Linked DNA regions of Homo sapiens. The protein of the gene in region 5 interacts with the protein of the main gene of each other region in a pairwise test. Each region holds a gene or a part of one and is shown on either strand. Other genes may lie near its edges.

Evidence for each region.
Region 1: the proteins of BEND7 (region 5) and CEP44 interact in binary tests that used the Homo sapiens proteins (3 or more experiments, as listed by UniProt).
Region 2: the proteins of BEND7 (region 5) and EAF2 interact in binary tests that used the Homo sapiens proteins (3 or more experiments, as listed by UniProt).
Region 3: the proteins of BEND7 (region 5) and ANP32B interact in binary tests that used the Homo sapiens proteins (3 or more experiments, as listed by UniProt).
Region 4: the proteins of BEND7 (region 5) and SMARCA2 interact in binary tests that used the Homo sapiens proteins (3 or more experiments, as listed by UniProt).
Region 6: the proteins of BEND7 (region 5) and L3MBTL2 interact in binary tests that used the Homo sapiens proteins (3 or more experiments, as listed by UniProt).
Region 7: the proteins of BEND7 (region 5) and CDCA7L interact in binary tests that used the Homo sapiens proteins (3 or more experiments, as listed by UniProt).

Annotation. Positions count from the first base shown.
Region 1 is NC_000004.12:174,304,411-174,307,910, reverse strand, and holds part of CEP44 (centrosomal protein of 44 kDa), read right to left. Parts: intron 1-3,500. UniProt on the Homo sapiens protein: Centriole-enriched microtubule-binding protein involved in centriole biogenesis. In collaboration with CEP295 and POC1B, is required for the centriole-to-centrosome conversion by ensuring the formation of bona fide centriole wall.
Region 2 is NC_000003.12:121,880,209-121,883,617, reverse strand, and holds part of EAF2 (ELL-associated factor 2), read right to left. Parts: intron 1-3,409. UniProt on the Homo sapiens protein: Acts as a transcriptional transactivator of TCEA1 elongation activity. Acts as a transcriptional transactivator of ELL and ELL2 elongation activities. Potent inducer of apoptosis in prostatic and non-prostatic cell lines.
Region 3 is NC_000009.12:98,003,841-98,007,340, forward strand, and holds part of ANP32B (acidic leucine-rich nuclear phosphoprotein 32 family member B), read left to right. Parts: intron 1-1,123; coding exon 1,124-1,313; intron 1,314-3,500. UniProt on the Homo sapiens protein: Multifunctional protein that is involved in the regulation of many processes including cell proliferation, apoptosis, cell cycle progression or transcription.
Region 4 is NC_000009.12:2,186,347-2,189,846, reverse strand, and holds part of SMARCA2 (SWI/SNF-related matrix-associated actin-dependent regulator of chromatin subfamily A member 2), read right to left. Parts: intron 1-3,500. UniProt on the Homo sapiens protein: ATPase involved in transcriptional activation and repression of select genes by chromatin remodeling (alteration of DNA-nucleosome topology).
Region 5 is NC_000010.11:13,519,015-13,522,514, forward strand, and holds part of BEND7 (BEN domain-containing protein 7), read right to left. Parts: intron 1-3,500.
Region 6 is NC_000022.11:41,222,312-41,225,811, reverse strand, and holds part of L3MBTL2 (lethal(3)malignant brain tumor-like protein 2), read right to left. Parts: intron 1,793-3,500; coding exon 1,561-1,792; intron 1,088-1,560; coding exon 1,011-1,087; intron 846-1,010; coding exon 741-845; intron 19-740; coding exon 1-18. UniProt on the Homo sapiens protein: Putative Polycomb group (PcG) protein. PcG proteins maintain the transcriptionally repressive state of genes, probably via a modification of chromatin, rendering it heritably changed in its expressibility.
Region 7 is NC_000007.14:21,907,900-21,911,399, forward strand, and holds part of CDCA7L (cell division cycle-associated 7-like protein), read right to left. Parts: intron 609-3,500; coding exon 231-608; intron 1-230. UniProt on the Homo sapiens protein: Plays a role in transcriptional regulation as a repressor that inhibits monoamine oxidase A (MAOA) activity and gene expression by binding to the promoter.

The DNA.
Region 1 (3,500 bases), on a different chromosome or scaffold from region 5:
GTATCTCATTGTGGTTATGATTTGCATTTTTCTAATGATCAGTGATGTTGAGTTTTTTTCATGTGATTATTGGCTGCATGTATACCTTCTCTTCAGAAGTAGATGTTCATATCCTTTGTCCACTTTTTAATTAGGTTGTTTTTTTCTTGTAAATTTGTTTAAGTTCTTTATGGATGCTAGATATTAGGCCTTTGTCAGATACAAGTTTGCAAAAATTTTCTCCCACTCCGGAGGGTGTCTGTTTACTTTGCTGATAGTTTCTTTTGCTGTGTAGAAGCTCTTTAGTTCAATTAGATCCCATTTATCAACTTTTGCTTTTGTTGGAATTGCCTTTGGCGTCTTCGTCATGAAATCATTGCCGACACCTATGTCCTGAATGGTACTGCCTAGGTTGTCTTCCAGGGTTTTTATAGTTTTGGGTTTTACATTTAAGTCTCTAATCCATCTTGAGTTGATTTTTGTGTATGGTGTAAGGAAAGGGTCTAGTTTCAATCTTCTGCATATGGCTACCCAGTTATCAAAGCACCATTTACTGACTAGGGAATCCTTTCCCCATTGCTTGTTTTCATCAGGTTTGTTGAAGATCTGATAGTTGCAGGTGTGTGGTCTTATTTCTGGGTTCTCTATTCTCTTCCATTGGTCTATGTGTCTGTTCTGGTACTAGTACCATGATGTTTTGGTTACTGTAGCCCTGTAGTATAGTTTGAAGTTGGGTAGCATGATCCCTCCAGCTTTGTTCTTTCTCCTTAGGATTGCCTTGGCTATTTGGGTCTTTTTTGGTTTCATATAAATTTTAAAGTAGTTTTCTTTAGTTCTCTGAAGACTGTCAATGGTAGTTTAATGGGAGTAGCATTGAATCTATAAATTGCTTTGGGCAGTACAGTCATTTTAACAATATTGATTCTTCCTATCCATGAGCATGGAATGTTTTTCCATTTGTTTGTGTCATCTCTGATTTCTTTGAGCAATGGTTTATAGTTTTGCTTGTAGAGATCTTTTGCCTCCCTTGTTAGCTAGATTCCTAGGTATTTTATTCTTTTTGTGGCAATTTTGAATGGGAGTTTGTTTGTGATTTGGTTCTCAGCTTGACTGTTGTTGGTAGATAAGATTGCTAGCAATTTTTGCACATTGATTTTGTATCTCAAGACTTTGCTGAAGTTGCTTATCAGCTTAAGAAGCTTTTGGGCTGAGAAGATCCTCCTACAATTATTTTAAACATACAGCAATTTTGCAAAAGGAACACCAATCTTTAAAAATTAAAAAAAGTTTAAATTATCACATATAATATATATATCAAAATATTACCATTACTAACATTACCAATAATTTATGTGTGATGATAAAATTGGGGTTATGACTTTTAAAACAATTCTTACATTTTAGGACAAGCGCTGAAATATTTATTAAATTATGTCTGAGATTTGATTTAAAATAAAGACAAAACAAGATTAGCAAAGAGTTGATAAATTGCTGAAACTGGATGATGGGTATGTTTGTAAATGTTTGAAATGTTCCATAATAAAAAGTTATTTTTAAAAAAGATTGCCAAATAATTCACTTATAAATAATCAAAAACTGGCTCTATGAGTAGGGCTCATTACAATTTTTCTGTTAAACAAACTGCAATTTATTAGACCTTCAGCTAACAATTCAAACCTAATAATGACAACGAAGAAGTCCTGACAAAAAAAGCATTAGGTCACGGTATGCATTTACCTAGAAATCCTCTACCTGCTTCCTATTCTACAGTTTGCATACACACTATAAAAACATATGTGACTCAGAAGCGCAAATAGGCATACTATATAAGGCACTGGGATAGGAGACAATTTGCTTTAATATTGACTCAACTTTTGCTTGTAAACAAAGAAATGTACTTGTAGACTCTTTTCTAAATCTGAGAACTTTTAATACTTATTCAAATTTCTGATAAAGATCTGGTATAAATTTTAATAGATAACAAAGAAAACTTTGCTTTAAGAAAATTAAAAATAAGTCTAATGTTTTGAAGTTTACATTTTTCTTGGCTAGGACAATTTACACTGTCCCCTCAACTCTCATACTGAAATAGAACATTGAAAAGCACATTATATCAATAAATAATTAATAAGTGCTCACAGTGTTCCTAATCCTGTGCTAAGCAAAATGAAGGTACAAAAAATCAGTATAAGAAAATCCCTGTTCATATATGTTCCTTCTAGTTGGGGAAGAATACAAGATATAAGTCATTTAACAGTTAGAAAATCATAAATAAAACTAACAAGAGTTAGATGAGTTAGAGATGCAAGTGTACAAAAACTACATGCACTTATTCAAAAATGGCGGCTTTGTATCATTCTTTATATTGTCTTCATTACCTAGAGCAAAACAGGTACATTAAAAAGAAGTGGCATAAGAACATTTTCTTATAATAAAATTTCACTTTTTTAAGGTATAAAGGAATAAACATATTTTTTTGAGATGGAGTCTCGCTCTGTCAGCCAGCCTGGACTGCAGTAGTACAATCTCGGCTCACTGGAACCTCTGCCTCCAGGGTTCAAGCGATTCTCCTGCCTCAGTCTCTCAAGTAGCTGGGGTTACAGGCACCAGCTACCACGCCTAGCTAATTTTTGTATTTTTAGTAGAAATGGGGTTTCGCCATGCTGGTCAGGCTGGTCTCAAACTCCTGACTTTAGGTGATCCACCTGCCTTGGCCTCCCAAAGTGCTGGGATTACAGGCATGAGCTACTGTGCTAGACCCAAGAATAAATTTTTAAAATAGATTCTGTTTACATAACTCATGTATTTTGGATTAGGGCAGAAATAATACTCTAGATTATACTTCAGTCAGAAAGTATTCACATCCTTTACTTAATTACACCATTGATAATTCATCTGATATTCTATCATTCAATCAGAGTCTTCTCCAGCTGGAAGACAGCTGAAAATATATTAATAAATAATATTTTAGCTTAAGTCTCCCTTAGTGATAGAAACACTGTAGCTCTAAGTGCATTAGATTCAATTTGCCACAGCTGCTCAAAGCAGATAATGGCAGAAAAATTATCTTTCAAGAAAGAGAAAATATTCAAAATATTAACTGAAAACCAGATTCTACGTGTAGGGACTACCAATTATTGGATAATTCATACTTGGTTACAGAAATATAATGTACATAAATGAATCATTATAACCTATCACTACTGCTAATGTAGGCTCTTCATATGTTCCCATGTTTTAGGAAGACCAGAACACAATTAAGAGCAAATGTAGATAACTGCATAAGATAATCTTCCTAAATCACTACTCTTCTGTTTAGGAAATCCGGCAGAATTAGAAATTAGAAATATAAAGAGAACACGTATTTAATTTTATATTTCTATCCTATTGTTATAACTTCAGGCATACTGCCCAAAAATATATGGCATGCACTGTTAAAAATCAATGAACTCCAATATCTAACTAGAATGTTCATCAGGTGCCAATCAGAAAAGTGAAAACTGTATATTGGATTAATTAGA
Region 2 (3,409 bases), on a different chromosome or scaffold from region 5:
GCAATGGATGAACCAGTCTTGCACAATAAAGAACTCTTCTACATTCTGTGAAATTTTTGAAAGTCGGGTGGAATATGTACTTGGAAGATCTGTTTATAAATTTAAAACCAGAGCTGAAATACATTTTCATAAATTCCAAGTATTGTTTTGCACATATTTAATTGAAACTTACAAGTATGCAGCTATCATGTAAACTGAAGATGATTTTGTTTTGTATTTTTTAAAAACTTTTCAAAAATTTTCTTTTAAAAATAGTTTGGGGCAACACATTAGTAACATCAATGCTGCTCATTGTATTTGGAGCAGCAATACGCATAACAATAGTTGTCTGTATAGGCAGCTGTAGACGCAATTTTTTAATATATATGCATATACTTTTCTAGTCCTTATTTCTACAGGTTAAATAAAAAGAAAAATTGTTGATAATATGAGTTGAATGTTGTTTTGTTTTTCTTAAATCCAAATCTATGCATTAAAAGTAACTGCAAAAACATGGTTACTTCATTGTATCTTCTGATATAGCTATTCTTTAACATTTACAAAGTTAGAACACATATTATTATAAATTTGTTTTTCTTTTGCCTTTATATTAAATTAAATTAATGCTTTTCAAAGATGTATGTACACAGATTATATTAAGCTATGAAATTCATTTCAAAATAGTAAAGGAGAATTAAAAATATCTGTTACAAAAGGGGGTGTTGGGTCTCATAAAGCTGAGCAATGGGATGATTGCAGTAATGGTCAGAGATGGTTTATTTCATTAGGAAACTCCTAGTTTAGATACATCAGGAAAAGAAATTTCACTATTTTTACTTAAAAAAAAAAAACCACCACCTCCCAAGTGGTTATTACTGATAGACAAAAACACTACGGACTTTACTTTCGCATATATCTTTTGCATCTAGTAATCTTTCCAAATTATTTTATTAGTTCTATCGTTTGCTGATTCTTTTGGATTTCCTATGTAGATAATTTACATTCCTACAAATTAAGAGTATTTTATTTCTTGTTTCCAATTCTTATATCATATTTCTTTTACTTGTTTTATTGTATTTGCTAGCAAATTCAATAGAGTGCTCAACAGAAATAACATTAGTCCTCTTTGTCTTGTTCCTGAATTTAACGGGAATGCTCCTAAAGTCTCTATTAGTATGATGTTTGTAGGAGTTCTGTTTTTTGGTAATTAACTTTTATAAAGCTAAGAAAATCCTATTATATTCATCCTTTGGTAAATGTTTTTATTTATTTTACTTTTTTTTTTTTTTTGAGACAGAGTCTCACTCTGTCCCTCAGGCTGGAGTGCAGTGACATGATCTCAGCTTACTGTAACCTCCACCTCCTGGGTTTGAGCAATTCTCATGCCTCAGCCTCCTGAGTAGCTGGGATTATGGGTGTGTACCAGCATGCCTGGCTAATTTTTGTATTTTTAGTAGAGACAGGGTTTCATCATGTTGCTCAGGCTGGTCTTGAACTCCTGGCCTCAAGTGACCCACCTGCCTCGTCCTCCCAAAGTGCTGGGATTACAAGTGTGAACTACCATGCCCAGCCTCAAGTACATGTTTTCAAATTAATAAATACTGAATTTTGTCAAGTTATTCATTTGTTGAAATGATCATATGGGTTTACTTCTATAATCTGTTAATGTGGTGAATTAGATTGATACCATTTCATATGTTTAACATTTCTTACATTTCTGTGATGACCCTTATTTGGTTGTGATTTGGTAAATTATACTTTTTCTACAAAACCATCCGTTCCTATGTCAAATTTACTGGAATAAATTTTTTAATAAAATTATAATTAAGGCTGGGTGCATTGGCTCACACCTGCAATCACGGCACTTTGGGAGACTGAGGTGGGTGGATTGCCTGAGCTCAGGAGTTCGAGACCAGCCTGGGCAACACAATGAAACCCCATCTCTACTAAAATACAAAAAAATTAGCCGGGTGTGGCAGCATGCGCCTGTAGTACCAGCTACTTGGGAGGCTGAGGCAGAAGAATTGCTTGAACCTGGGAGGCAGAGGTTGCAGTGAGTTGAGATTGTGCCACTGGACTCCAGCCTGGGCAACAGAGTAAGACTCTGTCTCCAAAAAATAATAATAATAATACTAATTTTTTAAAAATAACCAATTGGAAAACCTAATGATAATTGATAAATTTGTGGACATATACCACCTACCAAGATTGAACCAAGAAAAAATAGAAAACATGAACAGGTCAAGTACAAGTAATAAGACTGAATCAGTAATAAAAAGTCTCCCATCAAAAAAAAGTTCAGGACCTGATGGCTTCAATACTGAATTCTACCAAACATTTAAAGAATAAATACCAATTCTTCTCAAATTCTTCCGGAAAACTGAAGAGGTGAGAATTCTTCCAAACTCATTCTATGAGGCCAGCATTACCCTGTTACTGAAACCAGACAAGGACACAACTATAGGTCAATGTCTCTGATGCAAATACATGCAAAAATCCTCAACAAATAGTAGCAAACCAAATCCAACAGCACATTAAAAGGATCATTCACCATGATAAGTGGGATTTATCCCAGAGATGTAAGAATGGTTCAACATACCCAAATCAATAAATGTGAAATATCACACCAACATAATGAAGGACAAAAACCATATGATTATCTCAATAGATGCAGAAAAAGCATTCGATAAAATTCAACATCGCTTTATGATAAAAAACCCTCAACAAACTAGGTCTAGAAGGAGTGTACCTCGACATAATAAAGGCCATATAAGAGAAACCCACAGTTAACATTATACTAAATGGGGAAAAGCCGAAAGCTTTTCTTCTAGGAGCTGGAACAATATAAGGATGCGCACTCTCACCATTCTTATTAAACGCAGCACTGGAAGTCCTAGCCAGAGCAAAGAAACAAGAGAGAAAAATAAAGGGTATCCAAATTGCAAAGGAGGAAGTCAAACTGTCCCTGTTTGCAAATGACAAAATCTTATAAAGAGAAAACCCTAAAAGCTCCACAAAAAACTCAGGATTGATAAACAATTTCAGTAAAGTTGCAAGATACAAAAATCAACATACAAAAATTATTGGCATTTCTATAAACAAACAAGAAGAAATCAAGAAAGCAGCATTCCCATTTATAATAGCTACACACACACACACACACACACACACACACACACACACCCCAAAACACTAAGGTCCAGGACAGTGACTCATGCCTGTATTCTCAGTGCTTTAGGAGGCCAAGGAAGGAGGACTGCCTGGGGCCAGGAGTTCAAGACCAGCTTGCACAACACAGTGAGACCCAGTCTCTATTAAAAAAAAAAAAAATTAGCTGGCATGGTGGTGCACACCTATAGTCCCAGCAACTTGGGAGCCTGGGGAGGGAAGATCACTTGAGCCTAGGAGTTCAAGGCTGCAGTGAGCTGTA
Region 3 (3,500 bases), on a different chromosome or scaffold from region 5:
ATTAAAGGTTGTGTTTATGAAGCTATCCAGATATATGTAGTTATTGCCCCTATTCTGAAAGGCACCAGGCTATGTGCTACTTCACATTGGATTTGCCTTTCATAGGCTGCTCCCTCTTCTATCTACAAGGGTCTGCTGTCACTTCCTGTTGCTGTCTCCTGACTTGCCTATAGTGTAGTACCTCTGCCCTCTCAATCTCTTAATTTACCCTTAATCAAAACTTAATAGACCTGGGATTGAAATACTAGTACACTGATATAATAACAAATGAAGATCTGAGTAAATACATAGACATTTTCCAGTGCACTTTGACTACTCAGAAAACTTGACTTGGGCCAACTTTTTATAGCTTAACTGTTTTTAGATAGATGAAACTGATGGTTCCAAAGAAATGAGGTATTGCAACAAAATTTCAAGGTATGGTAAATAAAATCAGAAGAACTTTACATCATAAAAGTCTGGTAACATGTCAGTCTTTTCCCCAAATACTAAAAAAGAAGAGTGCAATGTTTCTCCGTATTTCCGAAGTTTCAACTCTGCGCCCCTCTGCTTTTTCCTCAGCCCATATTGACTCCTGTCTTCCCTGAAAGTAGCTGCATTGCCACACTTTATATTTTATTATATTTCATCCTCTAGTGTTTCATGTCTGTGCCCTAACTAAAATTGTAAGCACCCTAAGATTGTGTTATAAATCTCTGAATTTTTCCCTATACTGCCACCCTAGAACATTAAAGACCGCTTGATACCCAGGAAGTTCTTAATGGCCATTTGATTACTCAAATGTTAACATTTGTTTCAGCTAAATTTATTAAACTGTTTGATTGTCTCATACTGTGAAAATACCTGGATTTAATAAAAATTATTTTCAATTTATATTTCTTTAGACTACTATGCTGCCAGAAAAACACATAGTTCTCTGGGAGAGTAGATAAAGGAAGAGAGGGACTAAAGTCTAGTAACCTAATATAAAGGTTGCAAAAGACTTGATGTATTTTTCTATATATGAGGCTGAGTGGGTAGTGGAAATTGAATATAGAGCCTAGAATTTTACCTCTTCAAGAGATGGATTTGTTACTTATATTCCTTTGGTTTAGGAGTTGTGGTTTTTGATCCTTTTCTTCAGAAAAAGTTAGAATGTCTGAAAAGCCTGGACCTCTTTAACTGTGAGGTTACCAACCTGAATGACTACCGAGAGAGTGTCTTCAAGCTCCTGCCCCAGCTTACCTACTTGGATGGCTATGACCGAGAGGACCAGGAAGCACCTGACTCAGATGCCGAGGTGGATGGTGTGGATGAAGAGGAGGAGGACGAAGGTGAGTAGGCTCAGCATCTGGTGAACCTGATGTCTGCCTTTCAAAGCCTCTGATAAAAGCTATTGGATGTTGGCCGGGCGCAGTGGCACACAACCGTAATCCCAGCACTTTGGGTGGCCGAGGCAGGGGGCATTGCTTGAGCCCAGGAGTTTGAGACTAGCCTGGGCAACATGGCAATACCTTGTTTCTACAGAAAATAGAAAAAAAAAAAATTAGCCAGGTGTGGTGGCGCACACCTGGAGTCTTAGCTACTCAGAAGACTGGAGGCCGAGGTGGGAGGATCACTTGAACCTAGGAGTTTGAGGCTACAGTGAGCCATGATTGTTCCCCACTGCACTCCGTCTCAGAAGACAGACAGGGTGTCTCAAAAAAAAAAGCTACTAGATGTTCTTACTATTGAGGAAAATAGTGTGTGTTTGTGTGCGTGCGCACGCGTGTATTTTTTGAATGTAGGCATTCCATTAAATTTATAGCTAAGGCCTATTTCATAAGCACCTGGCCTCAAGGGATCCTCCCACCTCAGCCTCCCCAAGTGGTGGGATTACAGGGATGAGACACTGAACCTGGCCCGGGAAGCATTTCCTGAAGTCTACAAGCTAAGTTAGGATGCTGTGCGTTTAAACTGTAAACCGCTTGCTCTTACAGGCTTGCCACTCTGCTGTTCTTAAGTCTTCCTACTTCAGGGGTCTTCAACCCACAGGCCACAGACTGGTACTACTCCATGACCTGTTAGAAACCAGGCCGCATGAGCAGTGAGGAAGCCTCATCTGTATTTACAGCCACTCCCCATTGCTCACATTACTGTCTGGGCTCCACCTCCTGTCAGATCAATGGTGGTATTAGATTCTCATAGGAACGAGAATCCTATTGTGAACTGCACATGTGAGGGGGCTAGGTTGTGTGCTCCTTAGAAGAATCTAATGCCTGATGATCCGAGGTGGAGCTGAGGTGGTGATGCTAGAGCTGAGGTGGTGATGCTAGCACTGGGGAGTGGCTGCAAATACAGATTAACATTAGCAAAGAGGTTTGACTTTACAGAGATGATAATAAATCAATTGCTTGCAGACTCATCAACCCCTATCTGTGAGTGGCAAGTGACAAGCTGCATCTGGTGGCAGGCTTTATAGTGGCAAGTGAGTTGGTGTACTTCAGTTGTACAGCTGTATCTGGTGACAGGCTTTAAGTCAGAATCTGATGCTTTTTTTAGTCAGTGCATGGCCTGCCCATTTTTTTATTTACCACTTCCATCCACACCTCTTTCCCGCACTGCGTATTTGTCTCAGTCACAGTTTTGTTAGGCCCACAAGCTAACTATCCAACATGAGTAAAAAACGTCGCTGGAGAGCTTCTTTGAGAAGGGGGAAAGACCCAATAATGAGACAGCAGAAGACAAGACTGCCAATGAAAAGAAAGCTTCATTGAAAAGAAAATACCAAGAGTGCTACTTAAATTACAGGTTCATTGCAACAGATGATTCACATTCTCCAAGCCCACTTTGTATAATATGTGGCAACAAGCTATCCAACAAAGCCATGAAACCTTCAAAACCACTTCACTGGCTGGGCACAGTGGCTCATGCCTGTAATCCCAGCACTTACAGAGGCCGAGGTAGATCACCTGAGGTCAGGAGTTCAAGACCAGCCTGGCCAACATGGGGAAACCCTGGCTCTGCAAAAATACAAAAATTAACCAGGCATGGTGGTGCACACCTTTAGTCCCAGCTTCTCGGGAGGCTGAGGCATGAGAATTGCTTGAACCTGGGAGGCGGAGGTTGCAGTGAGCCGAGATTGTGCCGCTGTGCTTTAGCCTGGGCGATAGAGCAAGACTCCATCTCAAAAAACAAACAAACAAAAAAAAAACTGCTTCACCACTTGGAGACCAAGCACCCTGCGTTTAAAAGACAAGCCTTTGGAGTTTTTCAAAAGAAATAAACATGAACGTGAAAAACAGAGGCAATTATTGAAAGCTCCCACTTCATCAAATGTGACTGCACTGAGAACATCTCATTCTTAGTGGCTAACTGCATTGCTAAAGCTAAGAAGCCCTTAACTAACTGCATTGCTAAAGTAAGAAGCCCTTTACTATTGAAGAGTTGATCCTGCCTGCTGCTAAGGACATTTGTCATGAACTTTTAGGAGAGGCTGCAGTTAAGCTGCAGTTCAAAAGGTGGCACATGTTCCTCTTTGA
Region 4 (3,500 bases), on a different chromosome or scaffold from region 5:
CCACAGAAACATAAGCTAACAGAAGAGATGAGAGCTGTGCTGTTATGAACTCAAGTGTGGTGGTAGCATTTGCCTTTCCTCCATTCCAAATCCTAATACACAAAATAGTACTCCTAGCCAAGGCTTCTATCTATTATACCCACTGTCTGCTGCTTGACAAGCTATAAGGTGGGGCCCTTTGCTTTGGGTGGAGTAACTTAGGAGAAGAAGAAGAGACTGGAGATGAAAAGGCCTACCTACTAATGAAAACGGAAAGATGTAGGACGTCGAAAGAAATAGATGAAAGAAGCCAGTCATAATGGGCATTTCTAAACAGTGTGGAAAGACAAAGTGAAATATGTCCATTTATACAGGTGTGGGCTCTCCCTGACACAGGAGTATAGGAAATGAATGGGCAGAAGACAGGCAATAGGGGTAAGAAAATGTATCCTTGAGAGCGTAATCTAAATGTGCCTTGGAGTGTGGCGCACTCTAATGCTGTCAGGCACGCGTCAGTGGATATGTCTCTCCAAAAAACCCACCTGACAGACTATGGACAAGCAGGCTAATAAACTGGACCATTAGGTGAGCCCTATAAACAGCTTCCTAAGGTTTTATGATACAACCATATGCACCTATGAAAAGTTCTAGCTACCAAGTGTGGTGGACAGAATATCATCTCCTCACAAGATGTCCATATCCTAATCCAAGAACCTCTGAATATGTTATATTACATGGCAAAAGGAATTTTAGACTGTTAATTGTCTGACCCTGAGATGGGGAAATTATAGTGGATTATCCAGGTGGGCCCAGTCTAATCATCTGCATCCTTAAACGTGGAAGAGGAAGACGCAAAAGAGAGATTCATGGAGACACAACATGAGAAGGACTGTACCTGTCATTGCTGGCTTTAAAGTTGGAACAAGGGGTAGGGGTGGGGAGGCAATGAGCCAAAGAACACTGTTGGGAACAGCCTTCCACTGGCAGCCAGCAAGAAAGTGGGAACTTTGTTTCTACGAACACAAGAAATTGAACTCTGCTGAGAACCAGGATGAACAAGGAAATGGGATTCCTATCTAGAGCATCCAGAAAGGAATGCAGGCTGCTGACACATTGATCTTAGTCCAGGGAGACTCATGCTGAACCTGTGACCCACAAGAGGTAATAAGTTTGTGTTGTATTAAAGTCACTAAGTTTGTGGTAATTTGTTATAGCAGCAATAGAAAATTAATATACCAAGGCTTGAGAAATTAAACTAAATTGATGGATGGGGGAAGAGAGCAGCTCTTTGAAAACAGATTAGAAATCTGGCTCTAAAATAATGAAATATATAGCTAAAATAGATGATGCAGATGTATTCAAATGCTAGAACAAAGGAATAACTACATGAATTTGGGACAGTTTAAATTCATAACAAATAAAAGGCAGAATCACTAACTAGAATATAGATAATAGAAAATGACGTTGGGAAAGAGTCGCTTATGTATGTTGAGGGCAAGAATGGAAACTCCATTCTCTGTGGCAATGTGTATACATCACATACATTTTACATCTTTTCAATAATCTATGGGTAAAATGCTCAGGACAGCATTATTGGGAAACAGCCTGATTAACAGAGTATAATTAACACGTTACAGTACATTCACATTCATTAATGAATGTTAATATGTATTATACATATTAATATATGTTGCTGTAGAAAAACCCTCATTGCCATGGAAAGTGTTCATAATAAGTACAAAAATCATTACATTTTCCAAATCATCTGTATTAACATGTAATTAGAAACCTAATAATTTTTTAAAAGCATGTCTATACTTTTAATATATTTGAAAAGGTAAAAAAACGTGTAATTCTATATCTCTACATACATGTAATATTTTGAGACGTTACCTTTTTTTCCACACATAAATTTGTTTATAAAAACATAGCACACAGTTTTGTGGCATGATTTTTGTACTTATTATGAATATATTGATCAGGCTTGTCTCAAACTGGTGACTTCAAGTGATCCAGCCACCTCAGCTTCCCAAAGTGCTAGGATTACAGGCATGAGCCACTGGGCTCGGCTTATACTGTAAAACATAGGTTTTAGTACTTTACTTTGAGAGGTATACAGTGAAGACACACATAGGAAAGAAGAAATTTTATGTTTTAAAATATTTATTAATTATATTTAAAATTTTTTTTTTAGATAGAGTTTTGTTCTGTTGCCCAGGCTGGAGGGCAGCGGTATGATCATAGCTCACTGCAGCCTTGAACACCTAGACTAAGCAATCCTCCTGCCTCAGCTTCCTGAGTAGCTGGGACTATAGACACGTGCCACCACACTTGGCTATTTCTTTTTACAAACATTTTTGTAGAGATAGGGTCTTGCTATGTTATCCAGGCTGGTCTTGAACTCCTAGCCTCAAGCTATCCTTCTGCCTCAGCCTCCCAGAGTGCTCGGATTATATTTGTGAGCCAACATGCCTCACTAAGAAGAAATTTTCAACTTCTGACAGCACCCTTAACCTTTGGAATATTTGGGTTATCAGTCACGGCTGGAACTAGGGTCAAACAATGGAGGCACGCACCTTGGGTGTAAAATTTAAGGGGGCACCAAAACCCAGTCATCAACTAATATCCTAAAAGGTAAATATTTTAAAAACCCAAATTAATGCCCCCCAAATCCATGATAAACAAACTATCAACATTTTAAATAAAGACAGTACCCTGTCATCACCCCTCTTCCCCTGGCAAAAAAAAAATTCTATGCAAAATTCACAGTTCCAACTCAGTTTGACAATTATTTTCTAAAGCTGTGATTCTCAAGGTGTGGTCCTTGGCCCAACATCATCAGTTCCCCCTGGGAATTTGCCAGAAATACGGATTCTCAGGCCCCACAACAGGCTACTGGATCAAACACTGGCATATTCTTCAAGCCCTCCAGGTTTGAGAACCACCGTGGTAAAGAAGAGAAGATAGGTGGCATTAGCAGCAGTGTTGTAGAAAATGTGTAGTAGGCTAATATTCAAAGGCAACATTCAGAAAGTGTTTGCAGGTCAGGTGTGGCGGCTTGTGCCTATAATCCCAGCACTTTGGGAGGCCGAGGCGGGTGGATCACGTGAGGCCAGGAGTTTGAGACCAGCCTTGCCAACATGGTGACACTCCATCTCTACTAAAAATATAAAAATTAGCCGGGCGTGGTGGCACACGCCTGTAATTCCAGCTACTCGGGAGGCTGAGGCAGGTGAATCACTTGAACCTGGGAGGTGGAGGTTGCAGTGAGCTACTGGGAGGTGGAGGTTGCAGTGAGCTAAGATCATGCCACTGCACTCCGGCCTGGGTGACAGAGTGAGACCCTGTCTCAAAAATAAATAAATAAAAGAAATAAAACAGTGTTTGCTAGGAGCCCAGCCTATGCTAAACATTTTACATGCTTGGAGGTCATTTTTATGACCTCAGTTTTATAGATGAGAAAACTGAGCATGAGCAGGGATAAGGACATGGCCACCGGTTGCCCAGCAAGGACAAAGTGG
Region 5 (3,500 bases):
ACAACCACATTTCAATGTGGCAGCTGTTAAGTTTCGGAGGAGGATCTGCAGGGTGACTTGAGCACAATAAAGCCACACACAAAAATAAGTAAATATTAGGCATCACATGGTAAGTGCCAGAAAAGAGTAATGTTATTACTTAGTGCCCAAGTGATCGGAAGAATAGATAACTCCTAGGCTGGGCACGGTGGCTCACGCCTGTAATCCCAGCACTTTGGGAGGCTGAGGCAGGTGGATCACGAGGTCAGGAGATCGAGACCATCCTGGCTAACATGGTGAAACCCCGTCTCTACTAAAAAAAATACAAAAAAATTAGCCGGGTGTGGTGGCGGGCACCTGTAGTCCCAGCTACTCGGGAGGCTGAGGCAGGAGAATGGCGTGAACCCGGGAGGTGGAGCTTGCAGTGAGCCGAGATGGCGCCACTGCACTCCAGCCTGGGCAACAGAGCGAGACTCCGTCTCAAAAAAAAGAAAGAAAAAAAAAAAGAAAAGATAACTCCTAAATCTGGGAGAAGGAGAGAGAATGGGGTAATAAAAACAGAAATACAGTGTTTTCCAGTTTGAAAAAGCGTTTTACCATACAGGATTTCGCATGTGCGTCAGGAGGGCCAACGTTATTCTTCTATTACAGAAGATGAGGAAAACCCCTCAAGAGTGTTATCCAAGGTGTTAGAACTGGAGCCTGAGATTCAAAGCAAGGTTTTCTGACTCTAAATCCAACTTCTCTCTGCTACGCTATGTAAACTGAGGCGGCTTACAGGCCAAGGTAATATTTGAATTGAGCTTTAAAAACCGATAGGAGAGACAGGATTTTACTAGAAGGAGTTTGGAAATGGGGTAAGGAATGGTAGGAGGCTAGGATGGAGAAGGAGCCGCAGTGAAATGGCAGAGATGAGAATGGGAAGGTGCTTTAGGAGGGAATGATGTGATCAGTTTGACACAGCACATGTTTTCAGTGAGGGTGAAGAGCAAGAGAAGGCTGGAAGGGCGGTTTAGAAACAGACAGCGAACTGAAAGAGAGAGGAGAGCGGGGCCTCACTCCTCCAAGGCAGCATGGTACAGTGGAAAGATCGTGGCCAGGCCATGTCCAAATTCCAGATCCAGGCTCTTGTCTCCTAGTTCTATGACCTTACGTACATTAACAATTCTAAAGGCCCATTTTTCTCATATAAAAGTAGAAATGACAATACCTTCTCAGAGCTGGTCTCAGTGTTAAATGAGATAAAGTTCGGAAGTGCCCAGCACACACCGGAGGCAGTAAACAAGCCCTAGCTCCTTTCTTCCCAGCAGGAGGGGCTTTCCCAGGCCATAGCTCCTGCCCACCCCATTCCTTCTCCCTGTGGTGCCTCCTCTGCACCTGGAAGTCCTGGTTTAGGAAGCCGGTTGGCTCAAGGGAAGGCGGTTACATGAAAGCTGTGGACAGGGAGATGGGTCGGGTCAGACCGTGCATACTAGACACTCAGTGAAGGGCTTTGCCTTGATTCTAGGCCCATGACAAGGGAGCTGAAGTCTCTAAGCAGGAGAGAGGGTGAGAAGTTACGTACTGAGATCAGCCCACGTGGGCAGATTGGAGCAAGGAGCTGTGGCAGCTCTGACAAGGTGAAGAACTCAGAAGTGGATGTCAGGAGACCCCACTGGAAAGTGTGGTCAGCTACTAATGACCATGTAGCCTTGGGCAAATCACTTTCATCCCTGAGTTGAGGTTCCCATTTGTAAAACATGAGGCCGACCCAACAGCAACCTCACAGTGTAGCTGCAATAGAAACTAAATGAGAGATGGAGTGCCCGGATGGCCTAACTACAAATGCCTCCCAGACTTTAGGCAACAAGTCATACGTGAGAACGACCAAGTTCTGCATCCACAGCTACCGAAACATATGTTTATGTGCACATAAATTGAAAGAAGCCATCGGTATTTAAGTTCCCTCAAGAGGCTCTCCAAACTTTGACTTTGCTTGCAATTATTTTTGAAGCCATTTTTCGGTCCTAGAGTATAATCGGACAAATCAGGTGCTGTATGAAGCCTTGGGAACTGTCTAGACCAGGAGTTTTAAAACAGTGACTGGGGGCGCCCTAACATTCTGCAGAGGCCCACAGAGGAATGTGAAATGCACGTAAGGCTCTCTGGGTCTCCTCGACCTTTTTTCAAGCAGCTCTGCTCCCCTTTGATCTGCTGGACATACTGGGGGTTCCGCTTGGGAGCACGTTTGAACAAAGCCTGCCATGCGGTTAAGGGCTTGCTTTGGAGACAGGCAGACCCTGGCTTGCATCCTGGCTCTGGCACTGAGTAACTCTGTGAACTCCTCAAATTCTTCATCCATAAAGAGGGAAAAACAACACGTTTCTTGGGACAATTAATGGGATAACATTTACAAAGTCCTTTACATAGTGCTGGCACACAGCAAGCTCTGGGTAAATAACACTATTACTGGCCACGTACCTAACCCCAAGAGACACTCCTGGTCATCTGTCCCATTCATTCCACCACCAAAAAAGGAGAGGACTTACAAGAAGGAGCACAGGGACACAAGGACACAGTGGGGCCAGGGTGCTGAAGGTGGAGCTTTTGTGGGGAGGAACAGAGGGGAAGCACTTGCTTCCACATACTGGGATTTTGGGGTTCCACTTTTCCCCCTTGGCCCTTCATTTCCTCTGAGGTTGCAACTCCTGCCCCAGGTATGGTGACACACTAGACCCTTCTTCCTCTTGGAAGTGGGGCTCAGCTCCCAAGCCTTTTGAAACCAACCAAGAACCAGGGTGGGACCCAGGCCACCTGACTCCAGGTGAAGACCTCCTCCATTTTACAGACGGACCTGCCGAGTCCTCCAGGGAGGAGAACGATGTCGTGGCTGGGAGATAACTCTCTAACTTGTAAAAGTGCAGAGGAATTGTTCGAGTGTGTCCTCTTTGGGGAGATTCTGGGGACTCTAGTGGGTGCAGCTGTCATCAAGAAAGCCACTGAAAAGAGACTTCAGAGTTTCAGAGATGTCGACCCTGCTCAGCTGGCATGGCTGCCACACTGTGTGCTTCATCTATGGGAAGCTGAATAACTGAACTGAATATTAAAAAGAATAACTAGAACAGGGCTTGGCATGGATGTAAATGGAGCGCAATGAATTTGTTGAATGAATAAATGAATGAGACTGAACACCTGACAGATAAACATGTTTCCAATGTACATACTATGATAAATCTAACCCAAAATCCAATGTGTGAAAAGAGACTTCATTTTATATTTGCATTACTGCTATGAATAATAAATTAATTGTCTCATTAAAATCCTTCTAAAAGTGCCCTGCTAGCAGCTAAGGCCTCCTCCATGAGCCTTGGCTTTGCCTGGCTCCACAGGGCAGAGGGGAAAGATCTTTTGAGAGGAGGCCTGGGTTTACTCCGGCCTCTGCTATTCGTGAGGTCAGGTAACTGAGCTTCGGTTCCCATCATTATAGGAATCATTATATCTGCCCTGACTACCCCACAGGTATATGGTAAAAATCCCGAGAA
Region 6 (3,500 bases), on a different chromosome or scaffold from region 5:
GTATCCATCCAGGAGAACCTGGGGGGTGGGGGGAGCAGGCAGACAGATCATATCATGAACTGCACCCCATCCTGGGTTGGTACCGCACCCCAATAGGGACACGAGGCAAATGGATCCAAACGGATCTAGGGCATGGCCCTCCTGGAGGACACCTGAGCCTCTCTGGGGCACACAGTACTTCTGTGATGCATACGCGTGGGATTCTTTCTCTTCCCCACTAGACAGCAAACACCACGCCAGCAGGGGCCGCGTCCATCCTGTTGGACCGTGTTCTTGGGTGAGCACACGCGCCCGGCATGGAGCGGATCCGCGGCGAGGACGAGTCAGCAGCCTCCTCCAGGAGGGCCAAGGAGGGGTGGGGGTGCTGCTCAGGAGGAGGCGATGAGGTTTGGAGCAAGGTGACCCCAGCTGTGGCTCTTGCCTAGGCCAGCGCTCAAAGGAGATGGCACACAGCAAGAAGGCCCCAGTGAGGTGACAGGGAGGGGCCTACTCTGACACAGGACCAGGCTCAGGTGTTGAATAAGCACTCGTCCAGGGAGCCTTGGACCCTGACACGAAAGCAGATTCTGAGCAAGGGGCAGGCCAGGCCCCACTCACAAAAGTCAGGGACTCTGGGTGCAGCCAGTGATGAGAGGCTGGGACACAGACCCCCTGACGGTGGCGAGTGGGGTTAGAGCTCTGGGCCACATGGGTCCCCCCGCTCAGAAATCTGGAGGCTGGAGAGCCGGCCCCTGGCTCACCTTACAGACAGTTGCCACGCAGATGTTGCCCAGATTCAGGGGGTCAATGGCCTCCAGCTTCATCCCTTCCTCAAACCAACCGCCTTCTGTGTAGACTGCTCGTACCTTAAAGGAATGGGACAGCTGGGGACTCCCTGGGCAGGCCAGGAGGAAGGGTGAGGGAAGCAGGCCTCAGGAGGGAAAGGGATGGTCCCAGGGGAAGAGCCAGGTCCCTCAGGCCCGGAATGGACCCATGGCTGAGGGGAAAAGCGCCCAAGAGCTGAACCTCACCTTCTTGAAGAGGTAAGGAACGGCATCACAGTAGATCTTCCGGAAGGTGGGGTGATGGGCCATGTCACTTCGCCTCTCTTTGGAGGAGATGGATAGGGAATGAGGGAGAGAAGGGAGTTGGAGGCGGCTCCTGGGCCATCTCCACACGCCTCCCCTGGGAATGTGGGGCTGCTCTGCACGTGTTCTCAGCTGTATCTCTGTATCTCAGGACCCCCCACCCCAGAGTAGCAGACAGAAAGGTTGAGTCCAGAAAACATCAAGAGCTCTCTGTAGGGACTCTTCAGCCCTCGAAACCCAGACTGCTCCCGCATTGACAGGGGAGAGGATCGGGGCTGGTAGCATCTGGGTTCAAATCTTGATTTTACCACTCACAAGTTGAGTGGAGTGACTTTTGTCAAGTTACTCAAGCTCTCTGGAGCTCAGTATCATCACTGCAGGGGGGCCATGCCAACCTCCACCTGCTGACCTGCTGTGACGAGTAGGAAGGTGCTCCCACTCCGTCCCTGGGGAAGCACAGCATGCAGTCCCTCTGGCCTGGGGCTCTGCTAACCTGACATCTTGATGCCGTGGCCCACACGTCGTGACCAACCCACTGGGTGGATCAGGGGGCTCCACATGTGGCACCAGAAGTCGTCGTCACTGTCACCATCCTCGTAGAGGAGCCGTAGGCGACCCCCGATTACTGTGTCCACCACAGCCATGCGAGTGCGTGACACCTGGGACTTGTCCACCACTTCCAGCCGCATGCCCTGCCTAAAGGGGTACTTCATGCTCTCCACCATCTGAAACGACGTCAGAACACAGGCCTGCTATGGCTCAGGGCTCTTCCCACCCACCCTCCTGCTCTGGTGAGTGGAGGACAGGGAAGGTGTGGTGTTATCCCCCACACTCAGTCAGTCGGGAGGTGGCAGATGAGACTGCCTGCGCTGCCAGGCTCACCTTGGCCCTGACTCCCTAGGAGGACACAGAGGGAGGCAACAGCTCTCCCTAGGAGGACACAGAGGGAAGGCACACGGCTTGCAGTGGGCATGCCACTTCTTGCCACCAAAACGCCAATGAGTTGATGCAAATCACAAAACGCACTTTAGACTAAGGAAAAGTGACCCAGAGGTCACGCCTGCCCAGAATTACACAGACTCATTTGTGCCAGAGCTGGGCCTGGAAGCTGGTGTGCAGCCTGTGCTCCTCATGGGCTCTGCACTCTGATCCCCAGGCATCCTGCCCTCCCCGCCCCCTCCCAGCCCTCTGCCTGTGGCACATACAAGACTCATGTCCAGAGAACTGAGTCTTCCTGTGTCCCTTTCTGACCCTGATGGGCTGCAGCTCTGCAGTGCTTTCACAGTGCCTTGGTAGCAACTGACCTAATGAGGGATGGTGACCAAGATGCCCTCGAGCTGCTCTACAGAGAGCCATGGTGCTGGGGTACAGAGGAGGAGGTTCTTTTTGTTCACTGTGACTTCAGTGCTGTCCTGCCTGGGGCAGGGAACAGGTAGGGTGTAGGGCTTTTCCAGCCCCAGGGCACTGCTGGGTCAGGAAGAACCAGCCTAGACTAGACTAAGCAGTGCTATTTCCAAACACACCAGGAAGGAAAGCGTCTCAGAGGTCACAAAGCAGCCAACAGGCAAAGCTGACACAGGGGTCCTAAACCAGACAGACCCTCTGGCCCAGCTCAAGGGCTTGGGATACGTCCTGACACCAATTGCCTGTCCCACATCCGGTATCCCAGCAGCTCACTCAGGAGAGTGAGAGAAAACACAGGGTAAGGCCTGGCTCGGGGCCCCTCTGGGCTGCCTTCCCTGCCATGTTCTCTTCATCTACAGCCAACACAGTGCAGCCCACAATCCAACGCCATTTTTGTTAGTTTTTGTTTTTTTTTTTGAAATGGAGTCTCCTCGCTCTGTGGCCCAGACTGAAGTGCAGTGGCACGATCTCAGCTCACTGCAACTTCGGCCTCCCGGTTTCAAGCGATTCTCTCACCTCAGCCTCCTGAGTTAGCTGGGATTACAGGCGCATGCCACCACACCCAGCTAATTTTTGTATTTCTAGTAAAGACAGGGTTTCATCATGTTGGCCAGGCTAGTCTGGAACTCCTGCCCTCAGGTGATCTTCTGACCTCGGCCTCCCAAAGTGCTGGGATTACAGGAGTAAGCCACTGTGCCGTGCCTAGCTAATGTTTTTTTTTTTTTTCAAGAGACGAAGTCTCACAGTGTTGCCCAAGCTGGTTTCAGACTCCTGGCCTCAAGTGATCCTCTTGCCTTGGCCTCCCAAAGTGCTGAGACACTGAGACAGGTATGAGTCACTTTTACCATGTATATATGTGACTTTTTAATTTTTACTAAATCATTTCTTAAAATTAAATGCCACAAAGATGATTCTGTGCCACACAGGAGTCCTACACCAGACAGAATCAGACAGCCCAGAGGCGCCCCAGACTGGGCTTTACCCTGTGCTGTGCCAGGCACATCCCTGGCTCAGAACCGAGGCTATATT
Region 7 (3,500 bases), on a different chromosome or scaffold from region 5:
GGGCTAAAAATGGTGCTGGGGAATCTCTTTCTGTTCCCAAACCAGAGCTGATCATGTAATAGTTGCTCTGGGTTCTGGAAAAGTAAAAGGATACACAATACCCAGAGTATATTTTCTTGACAGAAGCCAAAGCAACAGCAGCAGCTGTAGGAGCAAAGTGGTTCTGGGAGCCCAGCAACTGCTGCCAGAGCCTGGTGCCAACTCCCAGGACGCCCTCCGTGAAGCCTCACCATGGCTTTGTTCTCCTTGATGTTCATGGTCCTTTTCAGCAAAGCATCTGAACTCTCCTGGCTCTCATCCCGAGAGTCATCCTCAGACTCAGAGGTAGAATCTTCCCTTTGTATCACCTGTCTACAGTCTTTCTTTCTTTCAAGAATTGTTTTTTTCTCATTCTGTAAGCGTGCGCTAGAAAACAACTGCTCGGAAGAACTGTTTTTATCTGGTTTGTTGGCCAGCTTCTTGGTGGGGAACTGAAAGGCTACTCGAAGACCAATACTACTTCTTCTAGACCTGCTTCTTCTAGGGGTAGCCTTATCTTCTTCTTCATCTTCCTCTTCCTCGCTCACCAAAGATGCTTTGCCATCATCACTCAAATCTGACTCCACGACCTAATAAAATAAGAGCAAGAAAAAGCACAAAGACACTGTTACAGACCCACAAAAAAGACATGCATTTAAAACAACTGACAGCATTATGAGAAAAAACATGAAAAATGAAAAGCTTCCCCTTCATATTATGAGTTCCCTCTGAATTTCCTTTAAATGTGCAAGAAATTGGTTGATGAATAAAATCAGAGAGCAGGCAACCTACTACTGAACTGTGCACCATCATACCCGCGACAGAAATGGGTTCCATTCAGAGCATGAGGGCTGTAAGCAAAACACTGACAGGGTGGGTTCCTCCACCGTGGGACAACCAGGGAGCACCAGCAAGAGGAGAGACAGTCACAGAAAAGGAGAGACAGCAGCATGACAGATGTGATCTTCAGACAGGAAAGGACGCAACGGGGGAAAAATGCTGACTGGTCTCCTCTAAATAGCAGGAACCAGACTCCTGAATAACAGGGCGGGAGAGCTGACTGCACCTCAGGGCAGTGACCCAGGACAGGCAGATGACCTGCCACTGCGTCCTCAGTCAAGGGGCACCTTTCCCTTCTCTGGAACCCTCAGAGCCATGAGGTGAAACCAGGTCACAAAGCTCTACAGGTTGTAGCAAAACACCACTCAGTCAACTCAAGAAATCCTCACCCGACATTTTCAAATTCCACATGGCAGAGGTCTCCAGCATTCAAACATTGCTCTGTTTTACAAGTGAGAACACAGTAAATATGGAAGGCAGTAACAGGGATACATCACCTAGGTGACAGCTTGGATGTGACGGGACTCTTAGCAGTGGTACAGAGACAGGTTTAAGTATGTAAGATCTAGGACGTCTTCTGGGCATCCTTCCATGACCAGAAGCTAGAAAACTTTGGGAACCATTATCTGGGAATTCTGAAAATCTACCAAGAACACGGAATGGCACCGATACGGACCCAGGATCAGTTCAGGGACTCTGCTTCCTCCCCGGTGACGACCATCAACCCCAAACTCTCGTTGGACTAAAGTTAGAAATAAGACACAGGGAGAAAAAAAACGCAGATAACTGCCAACCCTGGTATATCCACACCAAGCCAAGTGAGGAGTAAGACTATATGGCACTGATTTATCTATTTTTTAATACCCTGAACTTCCCATATTAATAGCTTCAGAATTCAAAATGGTGTACTGCAAAGGAACCCAATTTCAGGGGACACTGTCAGGGAAGAACTTCAGTTTTGATCCATTTATCTACCATCCTCATCATCGACAGGCCTCTCTTTACCAGATGTGGAACAGCTCACTACAGAGGCCTGAAGGAAGGAAAGAACAAATGGTACACAGCAGCCCAGAATCAGACCCAAGAGAAGAGCACAAGTGTAGTACATGGATGTGGTTATTTCGCATCCGGCCAGCAGACCCCTGGAAACCAAGTTACAGCAATGTCCCATTATCAAGAAAGATAGGTTCGCCAGTTCCCACAGGGGTGGGCAGGAGGGTGGGCTGGGAGGCAACAATGCTTTTCTTCTCACTGGATTCTAAAATAAAATTTGCAAGGGCCTGTGCTGAACTGTAAGCTATATCATGATCTATGTAACTACATCACACAGTCCATAGACTTGGGGGCAGGTGGGAGGGAAGACTTCTGGGGTAATTCACTTTCTCTCACTAGAAATGCAAATGCTTCGAATAACCAGACATCACTTCACTAAAGAACAGAAAATAAGTACATTGCTAACTGATGATGCCCATTAGGGTTTTAGAAGCATCTTAATATCGTGCTGGCAAGAAGCTAGGGACTTGCTGGCCAGAACTGATGGAACTGCCACACAAACAGCTTCTGCAAAGAAAGCCAAAGGAGACCTGGGGCCTCCAGGCTGGCACAGCTCTATGTTGCTACTCATAGCAAAAAATCACTATCAAACGAAGCAGCCTACCATGCGGGCTTTTATGCTCTACATTCTCTCCTAGGACAAGTGAGGGACATGGCAGGCTAGGAGTCACGGCTTATTTATACCTCTACACAGTCTCTGCCAAAAGTTAGTCTTTAGCAGCTTCTGGCTGTGAAGAGGCGTAAACTCTACGTTCCATCTTCATACTGAAGAAGATAGTAGCATGTTTATTTTTTGCATAAATGTATGCTATTTTTAGCAGAAAACATTTCTGCACTTAAATCCGAAGGCTGTGCCTTAAAGTTACCTTCAGGTTCAAACACGAGTGGGCAGTAAACTAGCCTAACTGTGCAGGATAAAACAAACAAATAACTAACAAGTCTGTTCATAGGAAGTGCTGAGAGTAGACTTCCCTCCAGAATCCAGGCAGGCCTGGGTCATCTTTAACACTAAAAAGCATGACAAATCCAAATCCACAATGCATGGGGAACACCAAGTTTGTACCACAGCCAAATTTTTGCCAAATTAACTTCAAACCAAAAACTGTCACTTCACACACAGTAAGAAAGTATCTCAAGAAAGTTGTCATCTAAGATAAACTTTTAGATAAAAGAGGTTTAAGGAACTCTTGAGATAATTTTTTTTTTTTTTTTTTTTTTTTTTTTTTTTTTTTTTTTTGAGATGGAGTCTCGCTCTGTCACCCAGGCTGGAGTGCAGTGGCTCAATCTCAGCTCACTGCAACCTCTGCCTCCCGGCTTCAAGAAATCCTCCTGCCTCCGCCTCCCGAGTAGCTTGGATTACAGGTGCCCGCCACCACGCCCGGCTAATTTTTGTATTTTGAGGAGAGATGGGGTTTCACCATATCGGTGAGGCTGGTCTTGAACTCCTGACCTCAGGTCCACCCGCCTCGGCCTCCCAAAGTGCTGGGATTACAGGTATGAGCCACCGTGCCTGGCCAAGAGAGATAAATTCTTTGAGAAGGACAATAAAGGACGCCTGGGACACATCCCCAAAAACCCCCTAAGGCACG